Regions from separate parts of the Homo sapiens genome. Here region 2 is linked to region 1. The links come from fine-mapping of genetic effects on gene expression. A gene starts in region 1. The other region holds a variant in brackets. All regions are shown on one strand. Distances are from middle to middle.

Region 1 (12,767 bases):
GTTGTCTCCTCCCAGACCCCCTTGGCAGCTCCAGAAGATTAGGGTCCCGGTGGCACCTAAGAATTTTTACAGGAAACCTCTAATTTTTAAAAAGCCATATAACTTAGGCAAAGGTTCAATTAAGTACAAATCTAGGAAAAAGGTTATTCTTAAAACCAATTTCTTTCCCTTGAACTTAATTCTACCCCTTGGAGTTAATCAATGAAGTCTGCAATCTCTTCCACAAAACAGCATGTTAAAATATCTACAGGCCATCATTCCATCCTCCATATCTTCTCTCCCAGTATCCATCCAGCCCCTGGAGAGCCATTTACTGAGTACCTGCTGTGCACCATGCTCTGGCCAGGGATAGGGCCTGGATCTTGAGCCCTTCCTCATGCAACTGTCTGGCTTCTTTTTTTAATTTTTTAATTAAAAAAAATTTATTTTCTTATTTCCCCAAGAAAAACTTTTTTATTTTTATTTTATTTATTTATTTTTTTTTTTGAGCCAGGGTCTTGCTCGGTTGCCCACGCTGCAGTGCAGTAGTGCAATCATGGCTTATCACAGCCTGGAACTCAGCCTTAAATGATCCTTTCAGCTTGGCCTCCCAAAGTGCTAGAATTACTGGCATGAGCCACTGCACCTAACCCAGGCTAGCTTCTAAGACCCACACTTGGCCCAGCAAGGTGGCTCATGCCTATAATCCCAGCACTTTGGGAGATGGAGGCAGGTGGATCACCTGAGGTCAGGAGTTCGAGACCAGCATGACCAACATGGTGAAACCCCGTCTCTACTAAAAATGCAAAATTAACCAGGTGTGGTGGCACGTGCTTGTAATCCCAGCTACTCAGGAGACTGAGGCAGGAGACTCGCTTGAACCCAGGAGGTGGAGGTTGCGATGAGCCAAGATTGCATCATTGCACTCCAGCCTGGGCAACAAGAGTGAAACTCCATCTAAAACAACAACAATAACAACAACAACAAAACCCACATGTGCTCCAGGTGGGGAAGATGAAAAAAGTTCCCAGCCAAAAGCTATATTCTGCCCAGTGTCTGCTCAGACAGCTACAGCTGCCCAAATTGCCTTTCTGTATCTACCTGTCTAGCAACACTGTTAACCCTGTAAGAACCAGCCCCATGTCCTGTCTTGTACAGGGCTGGCTGTTCCTTTCTCCAGACCATGTTCCTCCCCTCCACCCCTCTCCCCCAACAACACAAGCCTTTGGTTTCTCTTCTTTTAAGAGCCCTCTGCACTATGGACGGAAGTTCTGGGTTCATGTTTGCTCTACCCACCTCCTGGAGCACTTCAGGGACTTGTCTTTGTCATGTCTGTGTCCCAGGGCTTTCTACCAACCCTAGTACTCGGTAGACAAATGATAGACATTTGTTGAATCAAGCTGTGAGTTGGAGATCTTTGCAGAACCATCACTGCCCCTCTTAACTTGGAACTCCCCACCCAGAGTGCCTCCCCTAAGATGATGAGGTGTCAGACTTCAGTGGCCTGAGTTCTCTGAAAGCAGAGACTCTGAGAAAGAAGACTAGTCATCAAGACCACACTAAAAAGATGTGTTTCTGTGCCAAAGACTTTACTCACAAACAGGTAATACTATCATCTCCATTTTACAGAAGGGAGGCCCAAGTCTCATAACCTCAGTCGTAAAGCTGGGATTCCAAGACTGGCTATCTGACTTTGAGTCAGATATAATCATATCTTGGTCCTCAGGGATATCACAGAGGCCTGGCATGGCACCAGGGCATGGCCCAGTGCATTGGGGTATGCCCAACAGGACCCGCAGGGGGCAGTGATGAGCCTTCTTGTTTGGATTGGGGACAAATCTGCAGCTACTTCTTTCTCAATTAAAGAGGAAGTGGGAATTTAAAAAAGACTTTCTGCCGGGCACGGTGGCTCATGCCTGTAATCCCAGCACTTTGGGAGGCCGAGGCAGGTGAATCACCTGAGGTCGGGAGTTCGAGACCAGCCTGACCAACATGGAGAAACCCCATCTCTACTAAAAATACAAAATTAGCCGGGTGTAGTGGCACATGCCTGTAATCCCAGCCGCTCGGGAAGCTGAGGCAGGAGAATTGCTGGAACCTGGGAGGCGGAGATTGCAGTGAGCTGAGATCGCGCCCAGCCTGGGCAACAAGAACAAAACTCCGTCTCAAATAAATAAATAAAAGTAAAAAAGACTTTCAGGCCGGGTGTGGTGGCTCTCGCCTGTAATCCCAGCACTTTGAGAGGCCAAGGCGGGCGGATCACCTGAGGTCAGGAGTGCCTGGTCAACATAGTGAAACTCTGTCTCTACTAAAACTACAAAAATTAGCCGGGCATGGTGGTGGGCTCCTGTAATCCCAGCTACTCAGGAATCTGAGGCAAGAGAATTGCTTGAACTTGGGAGGCGGAGGTTGCAGTGAGCCAAGATCACGCCACTGCACTCCAGCCTGGGCAACAGAGCCAAACTCAGTCTCAAAAAAAAAAAAAAAAAAAAAGACTTTCATATAGTTCTTTCCCCAGAGGTCTAGGGATGTGGACCTGTGAGGGCTGTTGTAAATGCGTAGCTCCTTATTCTCTGGGACATTTGTTGTTTTTTTGTTTTGTTTTGTTTGCTGTTTTTTTCATTTTGTTTTGTTTTCTGTTTTTGTCTGTTTTTTGCGAAACTGGTGAGTTACTAATTAATCCTCATTCAACATAGTCCCATCCCTTCCTTCCTAGGGCACAGAGATTGTACTGAGGGGAGGGCAGGAGAGAGCAACGTGCAAGTGGGAAAACTGATTCAAAATACCTTGCTTCACAATTTCAGGACAGAAAATGGATAGTGTAAGTGACCCAGAGACTTGGCCAATGTGTCTCTGTTAAATACATCCACTTTTAAGAAAGTTAGTACTGCCAGGCACAGTGGCTCACGCCTGTAATCCCAGCACTTTGGGAGGCCGAGGCGGGTGGATCACAAGGTCAGGAGTTCAAGACCAGCCTGGCCAAGATGATGAAAACCTGTCTCTACTAAAAAATACAAAAATTAGCTGGGTGTGGTGGTGGGCACTTGTAATCCCAGCTACTCGGGAGGCTGAGGCAGAGAATTGCTTGAACCCAGGAGGCGGAGGTTGCAGTGAGCCGAGATCATGGCACTCTACTCCAGCCTGAGCAACAGAGCAAGACTCTATCTCAAAAAAAAAAAAAAAAAAGAAAGAAAGTTATTACTTAATCAAAGGAGCAAGGAAAAAAAAAGGAAGGGGGAATTTTTCTTTAGACCAACTTCCTTTTCTTGAACCTAATTCTACCCCCCTTGGTGCCAACAGATGAGGTTCACAATCTCTTCCACAAAACATGCAGTTAAATATCTGAGGATATTCAGGGACTTGGATTTGGTGGCAGGAGATCAACATAAACCAAGACAAGGAAGAAGTCAAAGAAATGAATCAAGTAGATTCTCTGGGATATAAGGTAGGGGGATTGGGGGGTTGGATAGTGCAGAGTATGGTACTGGCCTAAGGCACTGAGGATCATCCTTTTCCCACACCCACCAGAGAAGGCTTAGGCTCCCGAGTCAACAGGGCATTCACCGCCTGGGGCGCCTGAGTCATCAGGACACTGCCAGGAGACACAGAACCCTAGATGCCCTGCAGAATCCTTCCTGTTACGGTCCCCCTCCCTGAAACATCCTTCATTGCAATATTTCCAGGAAAGGAAGGGGGCTGGCTCGGAGGAAGAGAGGTGGGGAGGTGATCAGGGTTCACAGAGGAGGGAACTGAATGACATCCCAGGATTACATAAACTGTCAGAGGCAGCCGAAGAGTTCACAAGTGTGAAGCCTGGAAGCCGGCGGGTGCCGCTGTGTAGGAAAGAAGCTAAAGCACTTCCAGAGCCTGTCCGGAGCTCAGAGGTTCGGAAGACTTATCGACCATGGTGAGTGTAGGGTCTTGGGGTCGAACGCGTGCCACTCGGGAGCCACAGGGGTTGGATGGGGCCTCCTAGACCTCTGCTCTCTCCCCAGGAGCGCGCGTCCTGCTTGTTGCTGCTGCTGCTGCCGCTGGTGCACGTCTCTGCGACCACGCCAGAACCTTGTGAGCTGGACGATGAAGATTTCCGCTGCGTCTGCAACTTCTCCGAACCTCAGCCCGACTGGTCCGAAGCCTTCCAGTGTGTGTCTGCAGTAGAGGTGGAGATCCATGCCGGCGGTCTCAACCTAGAGCCGTTTCTAAAGCGCGTCGATGCGGACGCCGACCCGCGGCAGTATGCTGACACGGTCAAGGCTCTCCGCGTGCGGCGGCTCACAGTGGGAGCCGCACAGGTTCCTGCTCAGCTACTGGTAGGCGCCCTGCGTGTGCTAGCGTACTCCCGCCTCAAGGAACTGACGCTCGAGGACCTAAAGATAACCGGCACCATGCCTCCGCTGCCTCTGGAAGCCACAGGACTTGCACTTTCCAGCTTGCGCCTACGCAACGTGTCGTGGGCGACAGGGCGTTCTTGGCTCGCCGAGCTGCAGCAGTGGCTCAAGCCAGGCCTCAAGGTACTGAGCATTGCCCAAGCACACTCGCCTGCCTTTTCCTGCGAACAGGTTCGCGCCTTCCCGGCCCTTACCAGCCTAGACCTGTCTGACAATCCTGGACTGGGCGAACGCGGACTGATGGCGGCTCTCTGTCCCCACAAGTTCCCGGCCATCCAGAATCTAGCGCTGCGCAACACAGGAATGGAGACGCCCACAGGCGTGTGCGCCGCACTGGCGGCGGCAGGTGTGCAGCCCCACAGCCTAGACCTCAGCCACAACTCGCTGCGCGCCACCGTAAACCCTAGCGCTCCGAGATGCATGTGGTCCAGCGCCCTGAACTCCCTCAATCTGTCGTTCGCTGGGCTGGAACAGGTGCCTAAAGGACTGCCAGCCAAGCTCAGAGTGCTCGATCTCAGCTGCAACAGACTGAACAGGGCGCCGCAGCCTGACGAGCTGCCCGAGGTGGATAACCTGACACTGGACGGGAATCCCTTCCTGGTCCCTGGAACTGCCCTCCCCCACGAGGGCTCAATGAACTCCGGCGTGGTCCCAGCCTGTGCACGTTCGACCCTGTCGGTGGGGGTGTCGGGAACCCTGGTGCTGCTCCAAGGGGCCCGGGGCTTTGCCTAAGATCCAAGACAGAATAATGAATGGACTCAAACTGCCTTGGCTTCAGGGGAGTCCCGTCAGGACGTTGAGGACTTTTCGACCAATTCAACCCTTTGCCCCACCTTTATTAAAATCTTAAACAACGGGTCCGTGTCATTCATTTAACAGACCTTTATTGGATGTCTGCTATGTGCTGGGCACAGTGCTGGATGGGGAATTCATCATACTTAGGCTTTCTTCATCCTAACTCCCTAAGAAACCCTATCTGTCCTCCTCAAGAAAAGAACTGCGGGGATAGAAGGAGCCAGGAAAGGACTCCTGGCTAGGGCTGCATGGGAGAAACAATGAGTGTGCAGTCAGGGCTTTCTGAGCAGATTATTGGCATCTGGATTAAAAGGTATTTGCATGATATTTGGAAGATACAAAATATTTCCTCTCCTATGCACTTCCCAAGAGCCAGCTGCTCCCTTTCAAAGGTAATAAAACCCACAGCCATTTGCTTATTTCCTTATTCTTTCTCTCTCTCACACACACACACACTCACACACCCTCCCTCTCCCTCTCTGTCTGTCTCCCTTACCACTCAAGGAAGAGGGACAGCCTCCTATCCTGCACAAGCTCTGAGTTTCATAATATTAGGGTTCCTCTCTTGTAAAACCTCTCTTCACCCGGAGGCTTTCACTGTGTCACTCCCCGACATAATGGGAAATTTGGGCCTAGGGAACTGACGCAAGATACAGTCGGTCTCTGAATTAGAGATCCTGTGTTCTGTTAGAACACATATGCAGATAACCTTTTCAGGCTGACTGATTGGCAAATAGGAAAGCATCTCAGACTCTTCAAAACTTCAGAATAAACAGGATTTGTCCTCTAGTCCACATTAGCTCAGAGACCTACAGCATCAGCCATCAAGAGGTGCTGTTTCTTCTGAGCCCCTTCTTCATTTCAATGAGGAGGCAGCCACATCCATCAGAGAGCTAGATGCCTGCCTCACAGGGAGCATGGGAGAAAGGTGGGAGGAGGCATATAGGCCCAGCACCTGCCTCTGGCCAATGTCCAGAGCCACACAGATAGGAATAGGGAATGGAAATTAACATTGATAAGAGAGTTACAGACATTACCAGAACCAGACTCAAAATATGTCAGAAAACAGTTAAATTAGCTGGACACTCACTGGAATGTCCCCAAGGGGCCTTCAACCAGCCAGTTGAGAGATTTCTAGTATCAGAGAATTAATCATCTCAAGGCAGTTTTTTTCTTCCCTTGAATAGCTCTGATCACACTTCATCAAATGGTTACAGAACCACATTTCACCTCAGGCCTTGTGCTAAAGCCTGAAATACAAAGATGAATCAGAAACATCCATGCCCTTAGGGAATTCCAATCCAGTGGGGGTCGGGGGAACACATAAAAGATAGTTTTTTATGTGTGAGAAATAGCTGTGAGAATATATATAAATTTCTGTTGGTTAAGCCACCAGTCTATGGTATTTTATTACGGTAGCCTGAGCTGACTAAGGCAGTAGTGGTGATGTAACATATCTGATTGCAAAAAAAAAAATTTTTTTTAAAGAGTAATATATCTGGGCCAGGTGTGGTGGCTCATGCCTATAATCCCAGCACTTTGGGAGGCTGAGGTGGGCGGATCACGAGGTCAAGAGATCGAGTCCACCCTGGCTAACATGATGAAACCCTGTCTCTACTAAAAATACAAAAATTAGCCGGGTGTGGTGGCATGTGTCTGTAATCCCAGCTACTCAGGAGGCTGAGGCAGGAGAATTGCTCACTAGAACCTGGGAGGCAGAGGTTGCAGTGAGCCAAGATCACGCCACTGCACTCCAGCCTGAGCGAAAGAGTGAGACTCCGTCTCAAAAAAAAAAGGGAGCAGATATTGTTGAGGATTGATATGTTATACAGGTTGACTATCCTTTTTTTTTTTTTTTTGAGGCAGAGTTTCACTCTTGTTGCCCAGGCTGGAGTGCAATGGCGCAATCTCAGCTCACTGCAACCTCCACCTCCCAGGTTCAAGCAAATCTCCTGCCTCAGCCTCCCAAGTAGCTGGGATTATAGGCATGCACCACCACACCTGGCTAATTTTGTATTTTTCGTAGAGACAGGGTTTCTCCGTGTTGGTCAGGCTGGTCTTGAACACCCAACCTCAGGTGATCTGCCTGCCTCGGGCTCCCAAAGTGCTGGGATTGCAGGCATGAGCCACCACACCCAGCCAGGTTGACTATCCTTTATCCAAAATGCTCCAGACCAGAAGTTTTGGATTTTTTCAGATTTTGGAATATTTGCGTATATATAATGAGATAGATTTGGATGGGACCCAAGTCTGAATACAAAATTCATTTATGTTTCATATACACTTTAGATAATAGCCTGAAGATAACTTTATACAATATTTTTGTCATGATTCCCTAAACAATATAGTATAACAACTATTTACATAGCATTTACATTGTATTAGGAATTATAAGTAATCTAGAGATGATTTAAAGCATGTGGGAGATGTATGTAGGTTATGTGCAAATACTGCAACATTTTATTTATTTATTATTATTATTTTTTTTAGTTTTTTGGGTTTTGTTTGTTTTGTTTTGTTTTTTGAGACAGAGTCTCTCTCTGTCACCTAGGCTGGAGTGCAGTGGTTTGATCTCAGCTCACTGCAACTTCTGCATCTGGGGTTCAAGTGATGCTCCTGCCTCAGCCTTCTGAGTAGCTGGGATTACAGGCATGCACTACCACACCCTGCTAATTTTTGTATTTTTAGTAGAGACAGGGTTTCACCATGTTGGCCAGGCTAGTTGTGAATTCCTGACCTCAGGTAATCCACCTGCCTCTGCCTCCCAAAGTGCTGGGATTACAGGCATAAGCCACTGCACCCAACCTAAAGTTTTAACTGTTTGGATTGTAACCCATCACATATCCAGGATATGAATCATCCCTTTGTACAGTGTATCTACACTGTAGGCACTACTAGCTCGTTAGTAACTTAGGAGCTGTCTGGGTTGTCAGATCAACAGTTACCATATAGCAGTGCCTGTGTTCAGTAACCCTTATTTTACTTAATAATGGACCCCCAGCACAAGAATAGTGATGCCCACAATTCAGATATGCCAAGAAAAGCCATAAAATGGCTGGGCATGGTGGCTCATGCCTGTAATCTCAGCACTTTGGAAGGCCGAGGTGGGTGGCTCACTGGAGGTCTCCAGACTTCAAGACCAGCCTGGCCAACATGGTGAAACCTGTCTCTACTGCAAATACAAAAATTAGCCAGATGTGGTGGTGTGCTCCTGTAATCCCAGCTATTTGGGAGGCTGAGGCAGGAGAATCACTTGAACCTGGGAGGTAGAGGTTGCAGTGAGCTGAGATCTCACCACTACACTCTAGCCTGGGTGACAGAGTGAGACTCTGTCTCAAAAAAAAAAGAAAAGAAAAGAAAAGCCGTAAAGTGCATCTGTCAGAGGCATTCAAATCAGAGCAACTCCATCTTGAACAGGGGCTGGATAAAATGAGACTGAGACCTGCTGGGCCGCAATTTCAGGAGGTTAGGTATCTTAGTCACAAGTTTACATTTCAGGGAACAGAAACAGACCTAAGAAAGAGGGAAATATAGGACAAGTCAGAATATCCAAGCATGTCATAGATGGTCTGTGTAAGTTGTGATAGGTTTCATAAAATGGGAAAAAATATATATATATAGCTGGGTGTGGTGGCGCATGCCTCTAATCCCAGCTACTCCAGAGGCTGAGGCAGGAGAATCACTTGAATCTGGGAGGCGGAGGTTGTGGTGAGCCGAGGTTGCGCCACTGCACTCCAGCGTGGGCAACAAGAGTGAAACTCTGTCTCAAAAAAAAAAAAAAGATAGTCAACCTGTATACATATCAATCCTCAACAACAATATCTGCTCCCTTTCTCTGTTTTACTTGTCTTCACAGCATATTGCAATCAGATATGTTACTTGTTTTTTTTATTTTTTGAGATGGAGCCTCACTCTGTCACCCAGGCTGGAGTGCAGTGGCAGAATCTTGACTCACTGCAACCTCTGCCTCCCAGGTTCAAGTGATTCTCCTGCCTCAGCCTCCTGAGTAGCTGGGACTACATGCGCCCGCCACCACACCTGGCTAATCTCAAAAAAAAAAAAGAAAAGAAAAATGTAAAAACTGGCAAATGAAAAAGCTTACAATAACTGGATCTTCTTCTGTCTGTCTATTTACATATGTTGTGTGTGTGTAATGTTTATATAAAAGAGCTCTAATTAATTGGCTTAAAGAAAAAGCACTTAAATATTTTGTCAGAAAAATTAAAACTTTAATGCCTTTTAGTTCATATGACTTTAGTAATCCTTGGGAAATAAAGACAGTTTTAAAGATTATTGGTAAAATAAAAATGTCTTCAAAATTTATACATTTGGTCTAAATTAGGCAGGTCAGACACTGAGTTTACTAAACTACATAAACTGCTTCCTTGATATGATCATTGTTCAACTTACCTGCTTTGGAACCATTAGATTCTAGGTAATGCCTAGAGACATGTGGAGTTAGCCATGCCCTCTAGCTATGCTGGAAAGATCAGACCTTATCTGCACTTCTGTCTGGTGTCCTAGGCTCCACACCTGGTACATAATTAAAATTGCTTACTTACCAGGTTTTTCACCAAAAAAAAAAAAAAGTTGCTGAGACGTAACATTGTAACATATGCAATTGAGACTAGTAGAGAAACAGTTTTACATGGAAAGTGCGTAAGGAAAGTGAATGTGTTTTTGGCAAAAGATTATAAGAAGGCACAGGAATGTGGATTTTTTTTTTGCCTAGTTTAGGGGGTTAAAGTATTATTTTAAGTTGGATAGGGAAAAGTAGAAGCTTTGAGCAAGTTGTGGCAGGTTTATGAAATATAAATTCTGTCTGTGGACATACTGGCTAAAGTTAAAGGGGTATTCAATTTTTCCATAAATTGAACATTGGAATAAAAGCACAATAGAGTTTTCTTAGAGCACTGATCTGCTCTTTAACAGTAAAATATAGGCTGGGCACTTTGGCTCATGCCTGTAATCCTAGCACTTTGGGAGGCCAAGGCAGGAGGATTGCCTGAGGTCAGGAGTTCAAGACCAGCCTGGGCAACATGGCAAAACCCCATCTCTACTAAACATACAAAAAATTAGCATGACATGGTGGCATGGTGGCAGAGGTGCAGCAAGCCAAGATCACAGAGTGAGACTCTGTTTCAAAAATAAAAATAAAAAAAGAAATGATAATAGATAGAGACACAAAGATTTGTGGCTGCTTAGAAGTGGGGTGGTCAAGGGGAATGACCTCTAATGGGATACAATGCCTGTAATCCCAGACACTTGGGAGGCTGAGCCAGGAGAATCACTTGAACCCAGGAGGCAGAAGTTACAGTAAGCTGAAAGCATGCCACTGCACTCCAGCCAGGGTGACAAAGTGAGATTCTGTCTTAAAAAATAAAGAAAAAATATATAAAGGGTAATAAAAGGTTTATGAGACTCTTACCTTATGGTCAAACTGATTAAAATTGGATATCTTTTTCTATAAGGTTTTATTAAGAATTGGGTTTGACATTAATAGTACACCATTGCATTCCAGCCTGGGTGATAGAGCAAGACTCCATCTCAAAAAAAAAAGAAGACTGGGCATAGGTTGCTTAGAGCCACTCACAGGTGGACAGTCCAGTAGGCAGTTAGCCATAGGGGCTAGAGCTTAGGGGACAGGTTTGGCCTGGCTATAAGAATTTGGGAGCCATCAGTGTAGAAATGCCTGTGGAAACCGTAGCCATGAATAGCCATGAGTAAGTTCACCCAGGCCAGGAGGGGAGAAAGAAGAGACCGTGCTAAAGAAGGAAACTGGGAATCATCAGTCAACATTTCAGGATGGAGAAAGCAGGGTCTTCAAAGGAGACAGAGAAATAGGAAGAGAACTTAGAACTTGAGACAGAGAACATAGGGAGACATGGTCAGCAACTCCCTATGCCTCCTCTACTGTCATCTCCACCTTGTAAACCAACATCACCCCCAACATATTCTAGCCATTCTTTCCTTTGCCTCTTGTTCTTCCCTCTGCCTGGAATGTTCTGGTCATTAATTTATTCATCCATTTAACAATTATTTATTGAGCTCCCACTACCTGACAAGCACTTTGGAAGTGCTGAGGACAAAGCACTTATAGTGAGCAAAGCGACAAAAGTTCCTGCTCTTAAAGTGTTCATATTGCAGTGGGGAGAAGAAAGTATAAAGTGCTAGATGATGGTAAGTGCTGTGGGGAAAATAGAGCTGAGCCAAAACAGTCAGGATTGCTGGGCATAAGGGTGAAGGATTGCAAGTTTATAGTTGTTAGAATAGACCTCACATGAGGTGACTTCTGAGCAAAGATTTAAGGGAGGTGAGAGAGTGAGCCTTGTAGTTATCTGCTGGAAGAGCAGTCCAGGAAGAGGAAACATCCAGTACAAAGGCCCTGGAAGACATTGGCAATGATATCAGAGAGATAGCAAGTGGCCTCAATTGTTGTTTAAGGCTCACAGGCCACTGTGAAGCTTGGTTTTCACTCAGGTGAAATAGAGAGCCACCTGAGGATACTGACAAAGGGTAACATAAACTGGTTTCCATTTTTAAAGGATCACATTAGCTGCTGTGTTGAAAGTAAACTATAGAGAGTAAGTTAGAAGACTCGTTGGGAATTTATACCAATAACCCAGTCAAGAAATGATGGAGGCCGGGTGCAGTGACTCACGCCTGTAATCCTGGCACTTTGGGAGGCCAAGGCGGATGTATTATGAGGTCAGGAGTTTGAGATCAGCCTGGCCAAGACGGTGAAACCCCGTTTCTACTAAAAATACGAAAATTAGCCAGGCGCGGTGCCAAGCGCCTGTAATCCCAGCTACTCAGGAGGCTGAGGCAGAAGAATCACTTGTACCTGGGAGGCAGAGGTTGCAGTGAGCCAAGATCATGCCACTGTACTCTAGCCTGGGCACAGAGCAGGACTCCATCTCAAAAAAAAAAAAAAAAGAAAGAAAGAAAGAAAGAAATGATGGTGAGGTTGGGTGCAGTGACTCATGCCTGTAATACCAGCATTTTGAGAGGCCAAAGTGGGTGGATCACTTGAGGTCAGGAGTTCGAGACCAGCCTGGCCAATATGGCAAAACCCTGTCTCTACTGAAAATACAAAAAAAAATTAGCCCCAGCTACTCGGGAGGCTGAGGTGCAAGAATCACTTGAACCTGGGAGGCAGAGGTGCAGCGAGCCAAGATCACAGAGTGAGACTCCGTTTCAAAAATAAAAATAAAAAAAGAAATGATGATAGATAGAGACACAAAGATTTGTGGTTGCTTAGAAGTGGGGTGGTCAAGGGGAATGACCTCTAATGGGATACAGAATTTCTTTTTGGGGTGATAAAAATGTTCTAAAATTAAAGCGCGGTTATAGTTACACAACTCTGGTAATATAATAAACACCACTAAATTGAATACTTTATTTATTTATTTATTTATTCATTTATTTTGAGATGGAGTCTCACTCTGTTACCCAGGCTGGAGTGCAAAGGTGTGATCTCGGCTCCTGCAACCTCCGCCTCCCAGGTTCAAGTGATTCTCCTGCTTCAGCCTCCTGAGTAGCTGGGATTACAGGCAGGCACCACCAGGCCTGGCTAATTTTTGTATTTTTAGTAGAGACGGGGTT
Region 2 (12,767 bases), 18 kb after region 1:
GTATAAAATCTGTGTCTAGATTCATGTTTTTGCATGTGGATTTCTAGTTGTTCCAGCACCATTTGTTGAAAAAAATTCTCTGGGAGCTAAATGATAAGAACTTATGAACACAAAGAAGGAAAAGATGGACACTGGGGTCTACTTGAGTGGGGAGGGTGGAAGAGGGAGAGTAGCAGAAAAGATAACTATTGGGTACTGGGCTTAATACCTGGGTGATGTAATAATATGTACAACAAACCCCCATGACACTTGTTTACCTATATAACAAACCTACACATATACCCCCAAACCTAAAATAAAAGTTAAAAAAAAAAGAAAAAGTAAAAAGCTCTCTCTTCTTTATTGTATTGTCTTTGCTCCTTTTTCTTTTTCTTTTTTGAGTTTCACTCTTGTTGCCCAGGCTGGAGTGGTGCAATGGTGTGATCTCAGCTCACCACAACCTCCACCTCCCAGGTTCAGACAATTCTCTTGTCTCAGCCTCCCAAATAGCTGGGATTACAGGCATGCACCACCACGCCTGGCTCATTTTGTATTTTTAATAGAGATGGGGTTTCGCCATGTTGGTCAGGCTGGTTTCGAACTCCTGACCTCAAGTGATCCATCCACCTCAGCCTCCAAAGTGCTGGGATTACAGGTGTGAGCCACCGCGTGCGGCCCGACCTTTGCTCCTTTTTCAAGGATCAGTTGACAATATATATGTGAGTCTGTTTCTGGGCTCTCTATTCTGTTCCATTGTTCTATTTTCTTCACCAATACCATACTGTCTTGATTACTGTAGCTTTATAGTATCTTGAAGTCAGGTAGTGTCAGTCCTCCAACTTTGTTTTTCCCGTTCAATATTATGTTGGCTATTCTGAGCCTTTTGCTCGTACCGTTTTGCATAACAGCTGCACCATTTTACATTCCCACTGTCAGTGCACAATGGTTCAAATATCGCCAATATTGAACACATGCTATTTTCTGGGGTTTTAAAAAATAGTAGCCATAATAATGAGTGTGAGGAGGTATCTCATTGTGGTTTCCATTTGCATTTCCTTAACGATTTGAGACCTTGAGTTTTTTTTTTTTTTTTTGACAGAGACTCACTCTGTTGCCCAGGCTAGAGTGCAGTAGCATCATCTCCACTCACTGCAACCTCCGCATCCTGGGTTCAAGCGATTCTCCTGCTTCAGCCTCCCGAGTAGCTAAAACTACAGGCATGCACCACCACACCGGCTAATTTTTGTATTTGTATTTGTATTTATTTTGTTTTTTTGAGACAAAGCCTCACTCTGTTGCCCAGGCTGGAGTACAGGGTGCGATCTCGGCTAAATGCAACCTCAGCCCTCTACGTTCAAGCAATTCTGCCTCAGCTTCCCTAATAGCTGGGATTACAGGTGTGCACTACCACACTTGGCTAATTTTTAGTACAGACGGGGTTCTGCCATGTTGGCCAGGCTGGTCTCGAATTCCTGACCTCAAGTGATCCTCCCACCTCAGCCTCCCAAACTGCTGGGATTACAGGTGTAAGCCACCACACCCAGCCTAATTTTTGTATTTTTAGTAGAGACGGGGTTTCACCATGTTGGCCAGGCTGGTCTTGAACTCCTGACCTAAAGTGATCTGCCCACCTTGGCCTCCCAAAGTGCTGGGACTACAGGTGTTAGCCACTGCACCCAGCCAAGACCTTGAGTATCTTTCATGTGCTTATTGGTCATTTATATATCTTCTTTGGAGAAATGTTTATTCAAGTACTTTGACTTTTTTTTTTTTCTTTTTTTGCCTGAGACGGTTTGGCTTCGTAGCCTAGACTGGAGTGCAGTGGCATGATCTCGGCTCACAGCAACATCCACCTCCCAGGCTCAAGTGATCCTCCTGTCTCAGCCTCCTGAGTAGTTGGGACTACAGGTACGTGTCACCACACCTGCCTAACATTTATTTTTTGTAGAGATAGAGTTCATCATGTTACCCAGGCTGGTCTCAAACTCCTGAGCTCAAATGACCTACTTGCCTTGGCCTCCCAAAGTGCTGTGATTACAGGCATCAGTCACCATGACTGGACCTTTGCCCATTTTTTAATCATGTTGTTTTGCTGTTATTGAGTTGCAGGAGTTCTTCATATATTCTAGTTATTAACCTTTTATCAGATATATGAGTTGCAAATATTTTCTCCTATTCCATACATTGCGTTTTTACTCTGCTGATTGCATCCTTTGATGCACAGAGTCTTATTTATTTTTTAAATTTTCAATGTTTTTATTATTTAGAGACAAGGTCTCTCTGTCACTCAGGTTGGAGTGCAGTGGCGTGATCATAGCTCACTGCAACCTCAGACTCCTGGGCTCAAGCACTACTCCCACCTCAGCCTCCTAGGTAGCTAGGGCTATAGGCCGGTGTCACCATGCCCAGCTAATTTTTAAAATTTTTTTTGTAGAGATATGGTTTACTATGTTGCCCAGGCTGGTCTTGAACTCTTGAACTCAAGCAATCCTCCCGCATTGGCCTTGGCCTCTCAAAGTACTGGAATTAAAGGCATGAGCCACCATGCCTGGGCCACAAAAGTTTTAGATTTTAATGTAGTCCCTTTATCTGTTTCTACTTTTGTTGGTTGTGGTGCCATATCCAAGAAATTATTGCTAAATCTAATGAAGCTTTTTTTCACTATGCTTTCTTTCTTCTTCTTTTTTTTTTCTTGAGATGGAGTCTCGCTCTGTTGCCCAGGCTGGAGTGCAGTGGCATGGCCTCGGCTCACTGCAACCTCCACCTCCTGGGTTCAAGTGATTCTCCTGCCTCAGCCTCCTGAGTAGCTGGGATTATAGGTGCCTGCCATAACGCCTGGTTAATTTTTTGTATTTTCACTAGAGACAGGGTTTCGCCATGTTGGCCAGGCTGGTCTCGAAATCCTGACCTCGTGATCCATCTGCCTTGGCCTCCCAAAGAGCTGGGATTGCACACATGAGCCACTGCACCTAGCCTTATGTTTTCTTCTAAGAGTTTTATACTTTTTGCTCTTATAGCAATTTGATCAATTTTTAGTTAATTTTTACATATGGTATAAAGTAAAGATCCAACTTCATTCTTTTGCAGGTGAATATCTATTTTCCCCAGTGCCGTAGTATGAAAAGACTTTCTTTTATCTATTGAATAGTCTTGGCACCTTTGTCAAAATCATTTGACCACATATGTGAGGGCTTATTTCTGAGATTTCTATTCTATTCCTTGGTCTATGTGTCTGTCTTTATGCTAGTACCACACTGTTTTGATTACTGCAACTTTGTGATAAGTTTTGAAATCAGGATGTATGAGATCTCCAACTTGGTTCTTTTTTTTCCCAAGATTGTTTTGGTCATTCAGGATCCCTTGAGGTTCCATATGAATTTTGAAATGAATTTTTCCATTTCTGAAAAAAAAAGCCATTGAATTGTGCTAAGAAATGCATTGTATCTGTAGATCACTTTAGAGAGTGTTGATATCATAAAAATATTAAGACTACCAATGAACATGGATTAACTTTCTGTTTATTTGTATCTTTAATTTCTCTGAGAAACATTTTGTAGTTTTCATTGTACAAGTCTTGTCTCCTTGGTGAAGTTTATTCCTAAGTATTTTATTATTCTTTTTCATGCTATTGTAAATGAAATTGTTTTCTTAATATCCTTTTCAGATTGTTCATGGTTAATATATAGAAACAGTGATTTTTCAGTGTTGATTTTGTATCCTGCAACTTTACTAAATTTGTTTATTAGTTATAACAGGCTTTTTGGAATTTTTAGGGTTTTCTACATATAAGATCATGTCATTTACGAATGGAGATTAATTTTACTTCTTCCTTTCCAATTTGGATGCCTTCTATTTCTTTTTCCTGCCTACTTGTTCTGGCTAGGACTTACAGTGCTATGTTAAAAGAAGTATTGAAAGTACTTCCCGCTGGGCGAGGTGGCTCATGCCTGTAATCCCAGCACTTTGGGAGGCCGAGGCTGGCAGGAAATCGAGACCATCCTGGCTAACACGGTGAAACCCTGTCTCTACTAAAAATACAAAAAATTAGCCAGGCGTGGTGGCGGGCGCCTGTAGTCCCAGCTACTCGGGAGGCTGAGGCAGGAGAATGGCGTGAACCTGGGAGGCTGAGCTTGCAGTGAGCCAAGATCGTGCCACTGCACTCTCCAGCCTGGGTGACAGAGCGAGACTCTGTCTCGAAAAAAAAAAAGGAATGAAAGAAAGAAAGTACTTCCCTTGTTCATGACCTTAGAGGGAAAGCTTTCAATTTCTTACCAGTGAGTATGCTGTTACATTTGTTGTTGTTGTTGTTGTTTAAAACAGAGTTTCGCTGTTGTTGCCCACCCAGGCTGGAGTACAATGGTTTGATCTCAGCTCACTGCAACCTCTGCTTCCCGGGTTCAAGCAATTCTCCTGCTTCAGCCTCCCAAGTAGCTGGGATTACAGGCATGTGCCACCACGCCCAGCTAATTCTGTATTTTTAGTAGAGACGGGGTTTCTCCATGTTGGTCAGGCTGGTCTTGAACTCCTGACCTCAGGTTATATGCCCTCCTCAACCTCCCAAAGTGCTGGGATTACAGGCATGAGCTACTGTGCCTGGCCGCATTTGTTGTTTTTTAAGATGAGAGATGGCCGGGCTCAGTGGCTCACGCCTGTAATCCCAGCACTTCAGGAGGCCAAGGCAGGCGGATCACAAGGTCAGGAGATCCAGAACATCCTGGCTAAAACGGTGAAACCCTGTCTCTACTAAAAATACAAAAAAATTAGCTGGGCATGGTGACGGGCGCCTGTAGTCCCAGCTACTCAGGAGGCTGAGGCAGGAGAATGGCATGAACCGGGGAGGCGGATGTTGCAGTGAGCCGAGACCGCACCACTGCACTCCAGCCTGGGCGACAGAGTGAGACTCCTTCTCAAAACAACAACAACAACAACAACAAAAAAAAACGATGAGAGATGAGCCTGGTGCAGTGGCTCATGCCTGTAATCCCTGTGCTTTGGGAGGCTGAGACAGGAGGATTGCTTAAGGCCAGGAGTTTGACGTTACAATGAGCAATGAACTATGATTGCACCACTATGCTCCAGCTGGGCACAACTGTATTTAAAAATAAAAATAATAATAATAATAGAAATAGCATGATTGTATGAAGATAGAAACAGTAGACGGAAAACTTGGTGAGACAGGAGAAAAGGGAGTCCTGCTGGAGCAATGTTCTTGAGTAGATAAAAGGGACTGGTACCTAGTTCACAAGTGGAGGGATTAGTTTTAGTGTAAAAACCGAAACAGTCAATTTGTAGTCTCACTCTGCTGGAAGGCAAAGTTTCTGGGCAAAGATGCTGATGGGTAGGTGTGGCTCACTGTTTAGAATTCAACTCAGATGTCACCCCATCTGAAAGGAGCTACTCCTGCCACCATTTTTTTTTTTTTTTTTTTTTTTTTTTTTTAGTCAGAGTCTCACTCTGTTGCCAGGCTGGAGTACAGTGGCACGATCTCGGCTCACTGCAACCTCTGCCTCTCAGGTTCAAACGATTTTCCTGCTTCAGCCTCCCAAGTAGCTGGGACTACAGGTGCATGCCACCACACTCAGCTAATTTTTGTATTTTTAGTAGAGACAGGGTTTCACCATGTTGGCCAGGATGCTCTCGAGCTCTTGACCTTGTGATTGGCCTGCCTCAGCCTCCCAAAGTGCTGGGATTACAGGCATGAGCCACCGTGCCCGGCCCCTCCTGGCATCATTTCTATCCTAACATCATGCATGATTTTCTTCACAGCATTTATCTCTATCAGAAATTGTCTTCTTTATTTGTATCTTTTTTGGGTTGAAAATTCCATGAGACCAGAGATTGTGTTGCTCTTGTTCAGTTTTGTATCTCCAGCCTCTGAAGCAGTGCCTGGTACATGGCAAATGTTCCATAAATCTTCACTGATTTGATTGATTGAAGAGTGGGCTGAGGACTAGACCAAAAGGAAAGTGAGGAAACAGTGAATAGTATTTTACTTCACTAAAGTCAAGTAAAAATATTTGCTGAACTGAGTTTGAAGACCATAAACTATGTGTCATGGTTCCAGTCTCAAGGATTGTGATCTTTTGTTTTCAACTTTGTCCAGCAGTGTGGGGACAGGATTCATTCAACCAAGGTCGGAGGTCGGGGTGCAGGGCATCCTCAGAGAGGCCCTAAGATTGGGCAAGTTGGCCTGGAGCGGTGGCTCACGCCTGTAATCCCAGCACTTTGGGAGGCCGAGGCGGGTGGATCACGAGGTCGCGAGATCGAGACCATCCTGGCTAACACGGTGAAACCCCGTCTCTACTAACAATACAAAAAATGAGCCGGGCGCCGTGGCGGGCGCCTATAGTCCCAGCTACTCGGGAGGCTGAGGCAGGAGAATGGCGTGAACCCGGGAGGCGGAGCTTGCAGTGAGCCGAGATAGCACCACTGCACTCCGGCCTGGGTGAAAGAGCGAGACTCCGTCTCAAAAAAAAAAAAAAAAAAAAAAAGATTGGGCAAGTTGTGTTAATAAAGCAAGGCTGAATAATGTGCCCTAAACAGGGAAGGAAGTGAGGCAAGGAGCGGGAAATGGACTGAGAGATGCAAGGGCTCCACTTCTACATGGCACTTTGTGGTCGGATGGTTGGTGTGATGTGACAGACTTT[A/G]TGCTGAAACAGTGGAATGTTGTGGTTGTAGGACTTCCTTTTCTGATCTCAAATCAGTTTCCCTGTAAACTTCCTCTTTTGCTCCTGCTCTGTCATCTGGAATCAAAATGACATTAGTGTGTTTTTGTTGTTGTTCTACACTAAGTCAAGAGTTTTGCTCTCAAAAAAAACTTGCTCTCTCCCATCCAGTCTTCTTTTCTCCAACACAAACCCCACTTCTTCTAATGCTCAGAGCCCCTCATTTACCAGATCATGGGAGGCTCTTTATAAAACATTTAAAATCACATGTAATGGAAGACATTGAACACTGACTTGAATCTTTTAGGCTATCTAAAAATTGCTTATTCTTTTTTACATATGATATTGTGTATGATAGGTCTGATCTTGTGGTTAAGTTTAAGAAAGAATGGCTGCAAAGACATCACAAGGAAAGAAAACTACAGACCAATATGTCTTATGAGTATGGACACAAGAATCCTCAACAAAACACTAGCAAACCAAATCAAGCAACATATAAAAATAATTATGCACCATGACCAATTGGGATTTATGCCAGGAGTGCAATGATGGTTTTGACAGAGCAGGAGCACTGTCATCTTGGACAAACACTGCCACTTTAAGTTCCAGCTCCTTTTCTAACCTCATGCATTTCAAGGAAATCATTTCTATTCTAACAACAAGCAGCCACAAAGCGCAGACAGTAAAACACAGACAAGACAGCTCAGGCACAGAGGGAGAGGGGAAAATCTCCTGGGTAACCACCAAACTTCACACTCATACAATAGGCCCCAGTAAAACAGTGGGCCCTGATAAGCACATTCCTTTTCCTTTAGGTGCACTGAGATAGGGAAGCTAAAAGCAGACTGGGGGTGGCGGGAGTGATGGGAAGTATGCCTGTAGCTGCAGGAAGATGTATGGGAACAGACACAAAACTGTGCCTCCCAGATAAGCAAGACAAAGAGACACAGAAACATTCTGAGCCTATGATAAGCTCTCCTGCCCTGAACCCTTAAAAACTCTTAGTCTGGAAGAGAGAGTGGCTCTGACCTAACTTGGTTAGAAGCCCCTCTCAGGTTTATGCTCCAAAATAAACCTGTCTTTGTTGAGCTGCCTTTCATGTTTCTTTCCTCTTTAATTCTTACAGGTTTAACATCTGAAAATTAATGTAATACATCAGAAAAATAGAATTAGAAATAAAAAACCACGTGATTATTTAAATAAATGCAGAAGAAGCATTTGACAAAATTCAACACCTCTCACGAAAAAACACTCAACAAAAGGAAGGAAGGGAACTTTCTTGCATGGTAAAGGACATCTGCCAAAAAAAATCAGTTTATATCATACTTAATAGTAAAAGACTGCTTTTGCCTTAAGATCAGCAACAAAACAAGGATGTATTTTCTCACCACCTCTATTCAACATTGTACTAGAGGTTCTTGCCATGAAAATTAGTAAAAGAAATAAATGGCATCCAGGTTGAAAAGCAGGAAGTAAAATGATGTCAATTCACAGATTATATAATCACATATATTAAAAACTCCTAGTGATTCACTAAAATACATGAAAACTAATCAGCAAGTTCAGCAAGATTGCAAAATACAAAATCAATATACAAAAATCTATTGTATGTCAATACACTTAGAATGCACATTCTGAAAATTAAATTAAGTAAACAACTCTGAGCAGGTGTGGTAGCTCATGCCTGTAATCCCAGCACTTTGGTTGGCTGAGGCGGGAGAAGTGCTTCAGCCCTGAAGTTCATGACCAGCCTAGGCAACACAAGGAGACCATTGTTCCTACTAAAACTTTCTGTTTGTTTGTTTGAGACAGAGTCTTGTGCCGTCGCCAGGCTGGAGTGGAGTGGCATGATCTCAGCTCACTGCAACCTCCATCTCCTGGGTTCAAGCAATTCTCCTGCCTCAGCCTCCTGAGTAGCTGGGACTACAGGCACATGCTGCCACGCCTGGCTTTTTTTTTTTTTTTTTTTTTTTTAGTAGAAATGGGGTTTCACCATGTTGCCCAGGCTGGTCTCAAACTCCTGAGCTCAGGCAATCCGCCCACCTCAGCCTCCCAAAGTGCTAGGATTCTGGGCGTGAGCCACTGTGCCCAGACTGTTCCTACCAAAACTTAAAAAAAAAATTAGCCAGGCATGGTGGCTTGCACCTGTAGTCCCAGTTACTTGGGAGGCTGAGGTGGGAGGCTCACTTGAGCCCTGGGGCTTGAGGTTGCAGTGAGCTATGATAGTACCACTGCATTCCATCCTGGGTGACAGTGAGACTCTGTCTCAAAAAAAGAAAAAAGAAAAAAATTCCACTTGCAACAGCAGCAAAAAGAATAAAATGTTTAGGAACAAATATAACAAAAGAAGAGAAGAGCAGACTTACACTCTTAAAACTACAAAATGTTGTTGAAAGGAATTAAAGAAGATCTAAGTAAATGGAATAATATCCCATGCTCATAGATCTTATGATTGTCAAGATGACAATTCTCCCCTAATTCACCTACAGATTCAATGAAATTCTTTTTTTTTTGGTGTGTATGAGATATTGCATTATGATTAGAAATCATTTCCAGCACTTGCTTCTATGCCTGTTGCCCCATGCCCGAGGTAGGGGGCTTGGATCCAGGACAGGGTGTGGTCCTGCCCGGGGGTGGGTCCCAAACAGATGAACAGACTGGACCTCCCCTCCTTTCCAATGCCAGGGAGGCTGCTGAGGAGGACCACAAGTTCCATAATAAAATAAAGATTTTATTATGCTCACAGGGGAGGGTGGCTCATTCCTTGTGGGCAGCTGCTTTCCTCTTGGCGGCCAGGATGTTGCTCAGCTCCTCCTGCTTCCTGTTGGCACAGATGTGTGTCCCCACCCTTTTCTTGATGAACTTGAGGGCCCAGTTGTCCTTAGAAACCTCAAGCAACTCCATGGCATGCCGCTCGTTTGGGGCAAAGCCATACCCCTTTCAGGCCAGGTCTGCACAAACTCAGTGTTCTTGGTGAGGTGCCCATGGTGGTGGCGACTGAGCCTGGGCTTTCTCCTTACCCCATCATTACCTGGGCCCTTGCTGAGACCCCAGTCATGGGGTGGCACAGAGCCATGGCTACTCCTTTTCAATCTCAATGAAAGTCTTATAAGAATCCTAGCTGGTTTCTTTATAGAAATTGACAAGCTAATTGTAAAGTTTATATAGAAGTTCAATGGGTGCAGAATAGATAAAACAACCTTGTAAAAGAAGAGCAAAGTTGGAGGACTCACACTTCCTGATTTCAAAACATTATTGCAAAGCAACAGTAACTAAGACAGTGTGGTAGTAGCATAAGGATAAGCAGACAGATCAATGGAATAGAAGTGAGAGTTCAGAAATATACCCACATGTCTATGGGAAACTTATTTTGACAAGGTTGTCAAGAACATCCAGTAAGGAAACACTAGTTTCAACTAATGGCAAAGGGACACCTGGATATCCATATGCAGATGTATGAAGTTGGACCCTTACCTCAAATCATATACAAAAATTAATTCCACATTAATTGATTACCTAAATGTAAGAGCCAAAACCATAAAGCTCTTAGAAGAAAACACAGAAACTAATCTTTGTGGCCTTTGATTTAGCAGTGGATTATTAGATATGACTCCAAAAGCCTGAGCAACAAAATAAATAATAATAAACTGGAATTCAAAATTAAAAGCTTTTGTGCATCAAAAGGCATTACCAAATAAAGTGAAAAGACAACCTACAAAATGGGAGAAAATGTTGCAAATTATATACCTGGTAATGGTTTACTACCCAGAGTTTATATAGGATTCCTACAACTCGGCAACAAAAAGGCAAACAAATCAAGTAAAAATATGGGAAAAGGGCTTGAATAGCCATTTCTCCAAAGGCACACAAATGCCTGAAAGTCCATGAAAAGATGCTCAACATTATTATTCATTAGTAAAATACCAAAAACAAACAGGCAAATTAAAACCTGGGCAAAGAACTTGACTGAACATTGCCACAAAGAAATTATAATAAATGACTAACAAACATAAGAAAAGATGCTCAAAATCATTGGCCATTAAGGTAATGCAAACCAAAAACACAATGAGAGGCTGGGCGCAGTGGCTCACGCATGTAATCCCAGCACTTGGAGAGGCCGAGGCGGGCAGATCATTTCAGGTCAGGATTTCGAGACCAGCCTGGCCAACATAGAGAAACCCTGTCTTTACCAAAAATACAAAAATTAGCCAGGCCTGGTGGTGAGTGCCTGTAATCCCAGCTACTTGGGAGGCTGAGGCAGGAGAATCACTTCAACCTGGGAAGCGGAGGTTGCAGTGAACCGAGATTGCGCCATTGCACTCCAGCCTGGGCAACAGAGAGAGACCCTGTCTCAGAAAAAAAAAAAAAAGAAAATAGAAAAGCCACAATGAGATACCACTTCACACTCACTAGTATAGCACTAATCAACAACAATAAAAAAAATTGGAAACAAGTGTTGGCAAGAAGGTGGAGAAGAAGGAACCCTCATAAATTTTCGGTGGGAATGTGATATGGTACAGCCACTGTGGAAAATAATTTAGCAGTTTGTCAAAAAGTTAAATATATAATTAATTTTACCATATAATCCAATAATTGTACTCCTCATTATATACCCAAAAGAATTGGAAAGGCATATCCAAACAAAATTTTGTACCAAAATGTTCATATCAACACTATACACTATAGCTAAAACATGGAAATGATTCAAGTGTCCACTAGTGGATAAATGAATACATAAAATGTGGTATACACAGACAACGGAATATTATTTAGCCACAGAAAGTAATGACGTCTGATACATGTTACAACATAGATAAACCTTGACAACATTATGCTAAGTGAAATAAGCCAGACACAAAAAGGCAAATATTGTATGATTCCACTTATGCTGAGTATCTATAATAGGTAAGCTTAGTCAGATGGTAAGTAGATTAAAGGTTAATGGGTTCTAGAGGGAGAGGAGACAGGGAGTTATTGCATAATGGGTACAGAGTTTCTGTTTAGGATGATGAAAAGCATTGTAAATAGTAGCAATGGTTGCACAATATTGTGAATGCAATTAATACCACTGTATTTATTATACACTTAAAAATGGCCAAAATAGCAAATTTTATTTTAAACAGTAGTCTATAAGGTTTTTTCCATTATTATTATTATTATTTTTTTTTTTTACTTTTTAAACTATTTTGTTAAAAACTAAGACACAAACCACACACATTAGCCCGGGCCTACACAGAGTCAAGCTCATCAACATCGTTGTATTCCACCCCCACATCTTGTCCCACTGGAAGGTCTTCAGGGGCAATTAATAAGCATGGAGCTGTCATCTTCAGCCTCCCGAGTAGCTGGGACTACAGGCGCATGCCACCATGCCCAGTTAATTTCTTTTGTATTTTAGTAGAGACAGGGTTTCACCGTGTTGCCCAGGTTGGTCTCGAACTCCTGAGCTTGGGCAATCTGCCTGCCTCGGCCTCCCAAAGTGCTAGGATTACAGGCGTGAGCCACCACACCCAGCTGGGCAATAGAGATTTTTCTGCTCCATTATAATCTAATGGGACCACCCTTGTTTATACTGTTCAAGTTTGACCAAAACATTATTATGTGGTGCATGACTATGTATATATTGCCAGAATTAAAATTAAAAATTAGAGCATAGATAAACAAAATAAGGAATGGAAAAAATAGAAAATCGGTAAAACCAAGAGTTGGTTCTTTTAAAAGATCAACAAAATTGACAAACCTTTAGTCTGAGAAAAAAAAGAAAGTACAAATAACTAAAATCAGAAATGAAAGTACCAGCCTGGGCAACATAGACAGACCCCATCTCTACAATTTTTTTGTTTATTTAGCCAGGCCTGGTGGCACACATCTGTGGTCCTAACTACTTGGGAGGCTAAGGCAGGAGGAGTGCTTGAGCCCAGGAGTTCAAGGCCGCACACCACTGCACTCCAGCCTGGGTGACAGAATGAGACCCTGGAAAAAAAAAAAAGAGGAAAGAAAGAGAGAGGGAGGAAGGAAGGAAGGAAGGGGAAAAGGAAAAGGAAAGGAAAGGGAAGGAAAAGAAGGGGGGGAAGGGGGAGGGAGGGAGGGAAGGAAGAAGGAAGGTTAATTAAAGTGGAACAT

What was found. PIP is the estimated chance that this variant, and not a neighbour inherited with it, causes the effect. A credible set is the group of variants that fine-mapping cannot tell apart.
Region 2: its variant is the best candidate, but not a certain one, in a credible set for the expression of CD14 in whole blood (TOPMed, PIP 0.58).

Annotation. Positions count from the first base shown.
Region 1 is chr5:140,624,188-140,636,954 of GRCh38, reverse strand. It overlaps CD14 (CD14 molecule), which reads left to right and starts at 3,780. Exons shown (of 2, transcript NM_000591.4): 1 at 3,780-3,886; 2 at 3,975-5,223. The coding sequence starts at 3,884. The coding sequence ends at 5,099. It also overlaps a transcript of TMCO6 not described here. RefSeq lists enhancers at 4,136-4,635, 4,848-4,907, 4,636-5,137.
Region 2 is chr5:140,606,038-140,618,804 of GRCh38, reverse strand. It overlaps a transcript of TMCO6 not described here and the pseudogene RPL36P11. Among named protein-coding and RNA genes, the nearest start is that of CD14, 21 kb to the left of the region's middle. The variant A/G (reference allele first, on the strand shown) is at 6,627.